Linked DNA regions of Homo sapiens: region 1 is linked to region 2. Evidence: fine-mapped expression QTL. A gene starts in region 2. The other region holds a variant in brackets. All regions are shown on one strand. Distances are between the middles of the regions.

Region 1 (4,000 bases), 20 kb before region 2:
GAGGCCTGGAGAGGTGGCAGCAGGGGGTGGGGACAACTCATTTCCCCTCTCGTAACTCCATGACTAACTGACAAATGAAAGTGACAGCCTTGCCTGCCCTTCTCCCAAGATGATTGTGGGCAAAGAACATGAAGCCCCAGGAGCGGCAGCCCTTCCCCTAGTCCCTTTCCCACCTCTTGCCACCGTCAGAGCCCAGCCCTCACCTCGCTGCAGGACTTTCAGGCAGCCCACCTGGCCATAGTATGCGGCCTCGTGCAGCGGCAGCCAGCCCTCCTTGTTGGGCTCTGCGAGATTCTTCCCTTCCTTGATCATGGTCTTCAAGGCCTCTTCATCGCCATCCTTGATGGCCTTTATCAAGGGGTCCGCAGGCCTGTGAGAGGAAGGAGTGGGTCAGTCCTCAAGGTCAGGCCAAGGCCAGGCCAGGGGGCCTCTCTCTCAGGAGTGCTGGCAGTGGAGTCACTCGGTCCTCGTCCCTGCTGGTTCCAGGATGAGCACTCAGCCCCCTGCAGCCCAGTGGCTGCAAGAGGACTGGGGGATCCCTCCATCTCTGTGGCTTTCCATGGCTGCCGGGAATGTTATACCAAAACCAATTCTACCAAGAGGATTCAGGCACACAATGCCAGCCTCCTAGAGGGTGGCTAACCACCCACATGTGAGGCACTTGTGATAATTAAATGCTTTCCCTGAGTATAGCACTCTAGCATTTACCAGGCACGCCCATCTCGGGGGCCCCCTCTTAACCCTGAGCATATCTCTGGGGTCTTCCAACTCCTCTCCTTGCCCTGTCGCTTATTCCTACTCCCAGTACATCCAGCTGCAGAAAAAAAATATATACTGGAAGGATTAATAAATTTGAAGCCTTCACAGTTTAAAACTTCTGAATGTCAAAAAGATTTGAGGGCTAAAGTGAAGCCGTTCCTTGCTTGGCTTGTTAAAGTCCCTTTGTTCATTCATTGCTTCCTTCCTTCCTTCATTCATTCACTGAGCTCCCTACCTCATCCTTGGAGAGTCCGTGAGAACCACGATGTCTATGCCTCTCAGATCCACTTTTGGGGAGGCTTCTGCATCAATAGTCCCATTTCCCAGATGGAGAAGGTGAGGCTGGAGGCAGGCCTCATTCCCAGGACACCCACGCCATGTTGGGCTAGGATGGGCTCTGGGCGGTCTCTGCCACCAGCCCCTGCACTCTCCCAGCCACTTCCTCCAGCGTGAGCAGCACTTCCTCCTGACTCTCAGACTCTGTGGTTATTAATGGTGTCAGAGCACAGATGCCGGTGAAGCAACAGACCCAGCAAGGACGATGGGAAACTGATCAGATAAGTCCTGAGGTCCCCATCAGCACCGTCACTGCCACCTTGACGAGTTCCACTTAGGAACAGCCAGAGCAGCCCCTGTCAGCATCAGGAAAAGCCCAGTGGGGGTATGTGCCCCCCTTTTCCTGGAGTGTCTCCAAAGGGACCCCAGCTGAAGTGGAAGGGAGGAGGGCTGGCTTTTCTCGTGGCCTTGGCGAGCAGGGCGTGGTGCAGTGTCGTGAGAACACTTTCAGGACCTGCCGCCCAGCTTGGGTCTCTCCAGCTGTGATGCAAGGACCCTGGAGCCCTCAGCCCACATATTCACAGCTTCTCCATGACCTCAGGCAAAGTCCCCGCCCTATGAGTGGGGGAGGGTTCTGGGGGTGTCAGGCCATCAGAGTAGTAAGCTGGACGGGACCCTAGAGGTCACGTTGCCCTCTCCAGCCGTGTCCTGCAGAGAAGGGAGACTCAGAGGGGACAGCGACTCTCAGGCAGTCATGCAGGAGGTGGCAGTAGCTGAGACCAGCTCTGGGTCTCCCTTTTCCAGATTGTCAACCACTCCACACACCCACCACACCAAGGAAGTGGAGGGCGACAGGATTTGAAAAAGGCTGGGAAGGAGAAAGAAAATATTGGCCAATTGCCTCCTCCCTTCTCTACAACGTAACTGAGTGAGGAAATGCAGTTCCAGTGATAGGGTCCCTCTTTTGCTTTTGGCTGCTTCCGGGGTCACTATTCCAGGGGTACAGAGAGGGGAGGGAGGCAGAATTATTTTCTAAGGAGCGCATTAGCCCTGCCCCCTGGTGCCAGGCAAACAGAGCCCCTGCAGCTTAGATTATTTCTGGATTTTAGCACCTGGCACTTCACAAAT[A/T]AGGGCAAATAAACAAAACAAAGGCTGTGGGTGTGGGCATTTTGGATGTACCCACAGCGATGGCATGGGGGAAAGTGAGACTGGGACAAACAGAAGGGTGCAGCCAACTCATCAAGTTCAACTCCAAGCTCTCCTGGGCCTCTGGGGTTCTAAGGCCATCTCCCCAATTTCCCTCGTGCTGGGTCCCCAGTTTCAGAGCCCCATGGGGCTCCTCCAGCACTCAGGTCCCATGCTGGGGGCATCTGAGGGGGGGATCACCAGCATGCCTGGCTGGAAGTTCCTTGAGGACTGAAGTCTGTGGCCACCAAGCCCATCTCAGCAGGAGCAGTGGGGCCCCAGGGGGGCACCCCTAGAAGGAGCGTGCCTGGCAGGTGCCTCCATAGTGCCCTCTGCCCTCCTGGGGGCTGTGGGCCTGCTTCCCACCCTCCCTGCCATCCCAGTTAGCGGAGTGAACTTGGATGGTCCTGGGGCCAGACAGGAGTCACTTACGCCAGCTGGGAGGTCTTGAACAAGCTGCTGCTGTATTTCTGCATGACCCCTTGGAACAAGCCCATTGGGGCCCGGGCCGGCGAACTCTCAGGAGGTGCAGTGGACCTGGAGGGTGCAGAGCAGGAGTGAAAGAGGGAAAAGTACTCTGCATAGGAGAAGCGGGTCATGGCTTCAGGCAGGAATGAGGATGGAGGGAGAGCCAGGGAGAGACTGACTGACAGACACAGGGCTCTGAACCAAAGCAGATGGCCGGGTCCTCTGTGTGCTGGACACAGCTGCTGTGTCTCCGGATTATTTTTGGCCCTTGGAGGAAGCCCTGGGAGATTTAAATGACCATATAAGACAACAATGAGGTTAACCTCACCCCACCCCCCGGTCCCCCTCCCCAGCCAACCACGAAAGAGGCAGATAGGAAGCAAGGTGACATTCTTCACCCAGGAGGATGTGAGCCGTGGTCGGCAGGTCCCAGGATGAAAGGGGCTCAGGCTCACTGCTGGCCAGGCAGATCCCTGCGGGGCTGGATGAGAGATTCATGGCAAAGCAGAGGATAGGGGAGCAAAGCTGAGAAGCCAAGCTGTACCTGTGCCCCCCACGCCCACCTGCCAGCTCATTAGGGGATCTTGTCCCAGGGGTAGGAGCAGACACTATAGTAACCTCTATAGTGTTATTATAGGATGCATGAGGAAGGGCGTCGGAACCAGGGCTGCAGTCAGACAGACACAGGTTCACATCTGGGCTCTGGCACTCCTTGGCTGTGTGACGTGAGACAGGTTGACCTTTTCTGTGCCTTAGTCCCCGCTCCTGCAAGGTGGCATGAAAACAGCCTGTGCTCGAGGGCCGGTGAGGCCTGAGTAAGTGAATGGTGTGAGGAGCTTAGTGGAGTGTGAGGCACAGAGGGTGTTCCACATGTACTCACTCTTCATTTTATCATCATTTTGCCTCTCTAGGCCTCAGTTTTCCCGACCCACCAGGCTCCTGTGAGGGTGGAAGAGCCGGAAGGAGGTGGGATGGCCGCTCCACAAATCTGAGTTGGCCTGGGGTTGTCGTGAGAACAGGGTATATGGCCCCTACTGACACCACCCCCAGTAGGTCAGGCCTGGCACTCTCGACACCCCAGTGGCCCGGGCCTTTCACCACACTCTTCTGGGGGGGATTGGGGAGGACTCTGCTACCAGTGACTCACACCCTGTGGGGCATGGGGTAATTATGACCCTGAGAAGCACCCACACTCTTTCTGGCTAGGCCAGAGCCTACAGATTCTGTGGGTACACCCCAGCAAGGCCAGAGCCTGGTAGAGAGGAGCAAGGGTGGCAGGAGGAGGGGAACCTGCTCACCCCTCTGCTTCATG
Region 2 (4,000 bases):
TGCTAAGGAAAGAGAACCACAGACACAAGCCACTCCTGTGACAGCTGGCTCCTGTGGGCAGCCTGATCCTCTGCAGCGCAGAAATGGAAGGACACTGGGCAGGCCCAGAGATATTTTTGTGCCTCCTTTGGGAAGGCTCTTTGGATCTAGCCTGTCCACAATATACGGGCACCTTATGATGCCTTGAGTGTGCCAGAGACATTTCCCCTGGGTGCACGATGGTCCTGTTTACCACTGCCACAGTACCTTGAGAGGCCACAGGACGCTGTGGCTTTGAATGTGGACCTTGCAGACCAAAAGGTCAGATTCCTGACTCCAACACTTGCAGCCGTCCAGCCTTAAGCAAGACTTTTAAGCTCTCATAACCTGTTTCCAGACCTGAAAATGGGAGTAACGATCACCTGTAACTCATGGTAGCCTTGACCGAAGTCAGTGAGAGAAATCTGCACACAAGCTTGGGCCAGTGCTCAACAAAGGCTTGCTGGTATGGCCTGTGTTGTTGTTCACTGTGAGGTCACCGTGCGTGGGTTAGACAGTGTCCCCCACCCCCGCCACCACAAGGCACTCATGACCCGGCCTGTTTGTGCAAGAACAGATGATGCAAACCAGCATGGCACCCAGCGGAGCTGCTGCCAGCTTCTTGGGGACGCTGTGCAGCACATGGGCCTGCCACCAGCTGTCAGGACCCGTCCAACTGTTTTGGAAGTGCCTCGAGCATCTGCCACTGTCTGCCTCATGGTGCTTCTGCCCAGGCAGAGGTCAGGGCTGTGGCGGGGGTGCTGGCCCCAGCTGGCTCTGCCTGCGTCCCTCTGAGCCCCCTCAAGCCCTCGCCTCACGAAACAAGCTTATCTTCAGAAGAGCATTCCTGTCCTGTGCAGGGGCTCAGCTTCTGCCCTGCTTCAGGCCTTCCTCATTTACCTGCCCTCCCTAGGAGTCACCAGCCTCCTTGCCTCCTCATTCCAGTGCATACCCCTGGCTTCCCGAAGAGCCACCGAAGCCAAATCTCACATCCTCCAAGGGGAATGGGCCACTGAAATGAAAATGATTCTCCACCTAGAGGCACCAGAAACCAAGTCATGTTTCTGGGCCTCCACCTCTGGGGCCTGAGATGTGAACACACGGGTGGGAGTGTAGGTGCCTGGCTGTGTCCCTTCATATCCCAGATGCTCAATGCATGTGGCTATGTGCATGCCGTCCTCTGCTCAAAAACTCTCAGAAAGTGTTCCAACTTCTTGCTTGGCCTGGAAGGATGTGCCTCTCCCTCTGGCCTCCCCTTCTAGCCTCACCCCCATTTTTCACATGCAGAACCCTTTGCCAGAGCCACATTTCACTTTCCATCATCACCCCAGGTCCCTTGACTTCCCTGCCTTTGCCCAAGCTGCTCCTCCACCTGGAGGTCTCTGTTTCCACCCTGAGGCATCCCACCCATCCTTTCAAAGGCCATGGCCTCCTTAAATGTGTCATGCATATGCGTGTGCACACACATGCATGGTATTCTTGCATCCCTGCATTCCACAGCTTTGTTGGATCTCACATAAATAACATTCCTCCATTTCCTCTCCTAATCCCCAAACAGTTGAAAGCAGAGCACATGGCACCTTGGCTGCTATGGTCTCCCACAATACCGTGCATGCCTAGGCACTCTGCAACAGCTACATTAAATTAACTCCCACTCATGAAAACCTCTATCTGTGCGCCTGGCCTGAAAGCATTTCTGAAAGTCACTTGTCTGACACAGATACCGCCCAAGACCTACAGACCCAACAATAGCATCATTGATAAGTCCTTTTGCATTTCCATTTTTAGAAGTGCACAGCAGAGTGATATTCTGAGCCAGAGTCCTCCAGAAGAATGGGTAAGTACATGCAAATTGCTGAGTCTCTGTTCATTGCATCCAAAACGAAAGTCACCAGCGTGCTGTATAACTCAAGAAAATACGAGAGAGAGGGAAAAGCAACATCACAGTTTGACTACAAGCGGTTTCCAGTAAGTACTGCAGCCGAAAATCCCCACCAGCCAAAGAATCTTTTGCAAGATCTGTATAAGAAAGTTGAAAGCATGCATTACCTGTTAGGCTCTGAAACAAGGGTACAATTCAGGGGTAATACAAAGGATTTTCTTGAAAGTGTCTTAATTCAGAACATGCTCCCCGAGTTTTCCTTCTGCCCTGGCCCCAAGCTTCTGGCTGCTCTGCCAGGCAGTTCTGAAACGCTGTCCTTTGAAGCAGGGAGTTTATTTTGGGGCCACCGCATGACCAACGTTGACAAGCCAAACTATAAGATGTTATACATCTCAGATTTCCTGTTTGGAGGTTGCACTGAGGAAGCTGCAATCCTGCCTTCCGTTCCTCCGGGTGCATCGAATACAGACTCTCACTTCAGAGAGGATCCCGGAGCTTTGGCCCTCACGTGATGTCATCATTTGTGATCCTTGACATGGAGGCCATATATGGGTATGTTTCTGGAACTACCCAGGGGAGAGCCAGACAGGAGAGAGATGCAGTGGGTCAGAGACAGAGGCAGGGAACGAGGACGAGGAGACGCATAGTTGGGAGACAAAGAGTGAGGAGCAAGGGAGGAGGAAGAAAGGGGAAGAGGAGAAGTAAAGGCAACAAAGGAGGGAAGGCAAGACAGCAGGAAGGAAGAGGATGGAGTGAAAGAGAAGGGAAGAAGGGGAGAGAGGAGATGAAGGAGTTGACGTAAAAGGGCTTTGGAGAAATCAAGGTTTGGTGCTGAGCTTGTGGCAGCATTTGGGGATAGCAGGTGTCTGGCTGCTGGATACTGTGGGGTGGGGCTGGGGATACAAAGGGCCAGGGTACAAATGAGCCAACAAACAAACACAGAGGCATGCGGGCAAGCCCTGGGCAGAGATATACAACAGAAGAGAGCCCTTCCTCCTGGTCTAGGGAAGAACGTCCCATTTCTGGAATAGGTCAAATGTCAAAGACAACACATACACAGCCACATGCACTGAGCATCCGGGATGTGACAGGACATGGCCAGGCACCTACTCTCCCACCCGTGTGTTCACATCTCATGCCTCAGAGTTAGGGGTCCAGAAACATGACTTGGTCTGTTCCTCTAAGGGGAGAATCATTTTTGTTTCAGTGGCCCATTCCCCTTGGAGGATGTGGATTTATGATGGCCACAGCATGATTTCTCACTGATTCAAACTCAGGAAACCTCAGGATGCCTTTACACGCACTTCGAATATTCCACAAGGAAATACATCTCAGTATACAAGGTGCCACGGGGTTGAGTCAAGGTTCTGGAGGTCTGACTGGTGCTAAAGATGGGAAGGACACCAGTGGTCCCCAGGCAGTCCCCCAGCTTCCCTGGTACCTGCCAAATTGCTCATCACCCCAGCTGGGTCAGTCTTCCCAGGCCACTGTGGCTGGGTGGCCCTCAAAGTTAGCTCAAGTTCAGCCCCTTCCAGACCCATGTGCTATGGAGGGAGTGTAGGAGAAGGGCAGAGAAGGGGCTGTCAGATTCTTTTTACTTTTTGGAGACTCTGCTACCCAGTAGGATGTTCCCCGAGAGACGTCTCTGTGGGACGGCTCCCCGAGGCCGGGCTGCTTTCCTGGGCTCCTTGCTGGAGGCAAAACACAGGTTCCTCTACTTCCTGCCCACCACCTGCCCCTTCCCAATCTGACCTGGAAGGTGGGCTGTGGCCAGGCCAGGCCCCTCCTAGGTTGCCCTCTGCCTCATGGGCATGCACACATGCACACACACACACACACATACACACCCCAAACTCCATCCAAGATGTGTCTATTCCTTCCCTCCCCTTGAATATGGGGTGGCCTAGTGATGGACTTAACAATAGAATGCAGTGGAAATGATGTCCTGAGACTTCCAAGGCTAGGTCATGAGATGCTTTGTAGCTGCCATGTTGTGAGGAAGTCCAAGCAAGCAACACCCAGGGCCCCCAGAGCATCTAGCACCAGGCAGAGGGGTGAAGACACCCTCTCGGAGGTGGATCCTTCACCTGCAGCTGCCAC

Alleles and levels. Positions count from the first base shown, and alleles are read on the strand shown. Sizes are in standard deviations (SD) of each study's normalised expression.
For the expression in cerebellar hemisphere of the gene that starts at base 2,204 in region 2, allele T in region 1 goes with a higher level than allele A (moderate effect, 0.59 SD a copy in GTEx).

The links.
Region 1: its variant is fine-mapped to the expression of ASB2 in cerebellar hemisphere (GTEx, PIP above 0.99). The same link has a PIP of 0.9 or more in cerebellum.

Annotation. Positions count from the first base shown.
Region 1 is chr14:93,954,114-93,958,113 of GRCh38, forward strand. It overlaps ASB2 (ankyrin repeat and SOCS box containing 2), which reads right to left. Exons shown (of 10, transcript NM_001202429.2): 3 at 2,653-2,757; 4 at 204-370. Among named protein-coding and RNA genes, the nearest start is that of MIR4506, 7.8 kb to the left of the region's middle. RefSeq lists enhancers at 1-762, 873-1,579, 1,580-2,284. The variant A/T (reference allele first, on the strand shown) is at 2,164.
Region 2 is chr14:93,974,367-93,978,366 of GRCh38, forward strand. It overlaps ASB2 (ankyrin repeat and SOCS box containing 2), which reads right to left and starts at 2,204. Exons shown (of 10, transcript NM_001202429.2): 1 at 2,068-2,204. It overlaps LOC107984663 (a long non-coding RNA gene), which reads right to left. Exons shown (of 4, transcript XR_001750861.2): 4 at 3,059-4,000. RefSeq lists an enhancer at 685-1,256.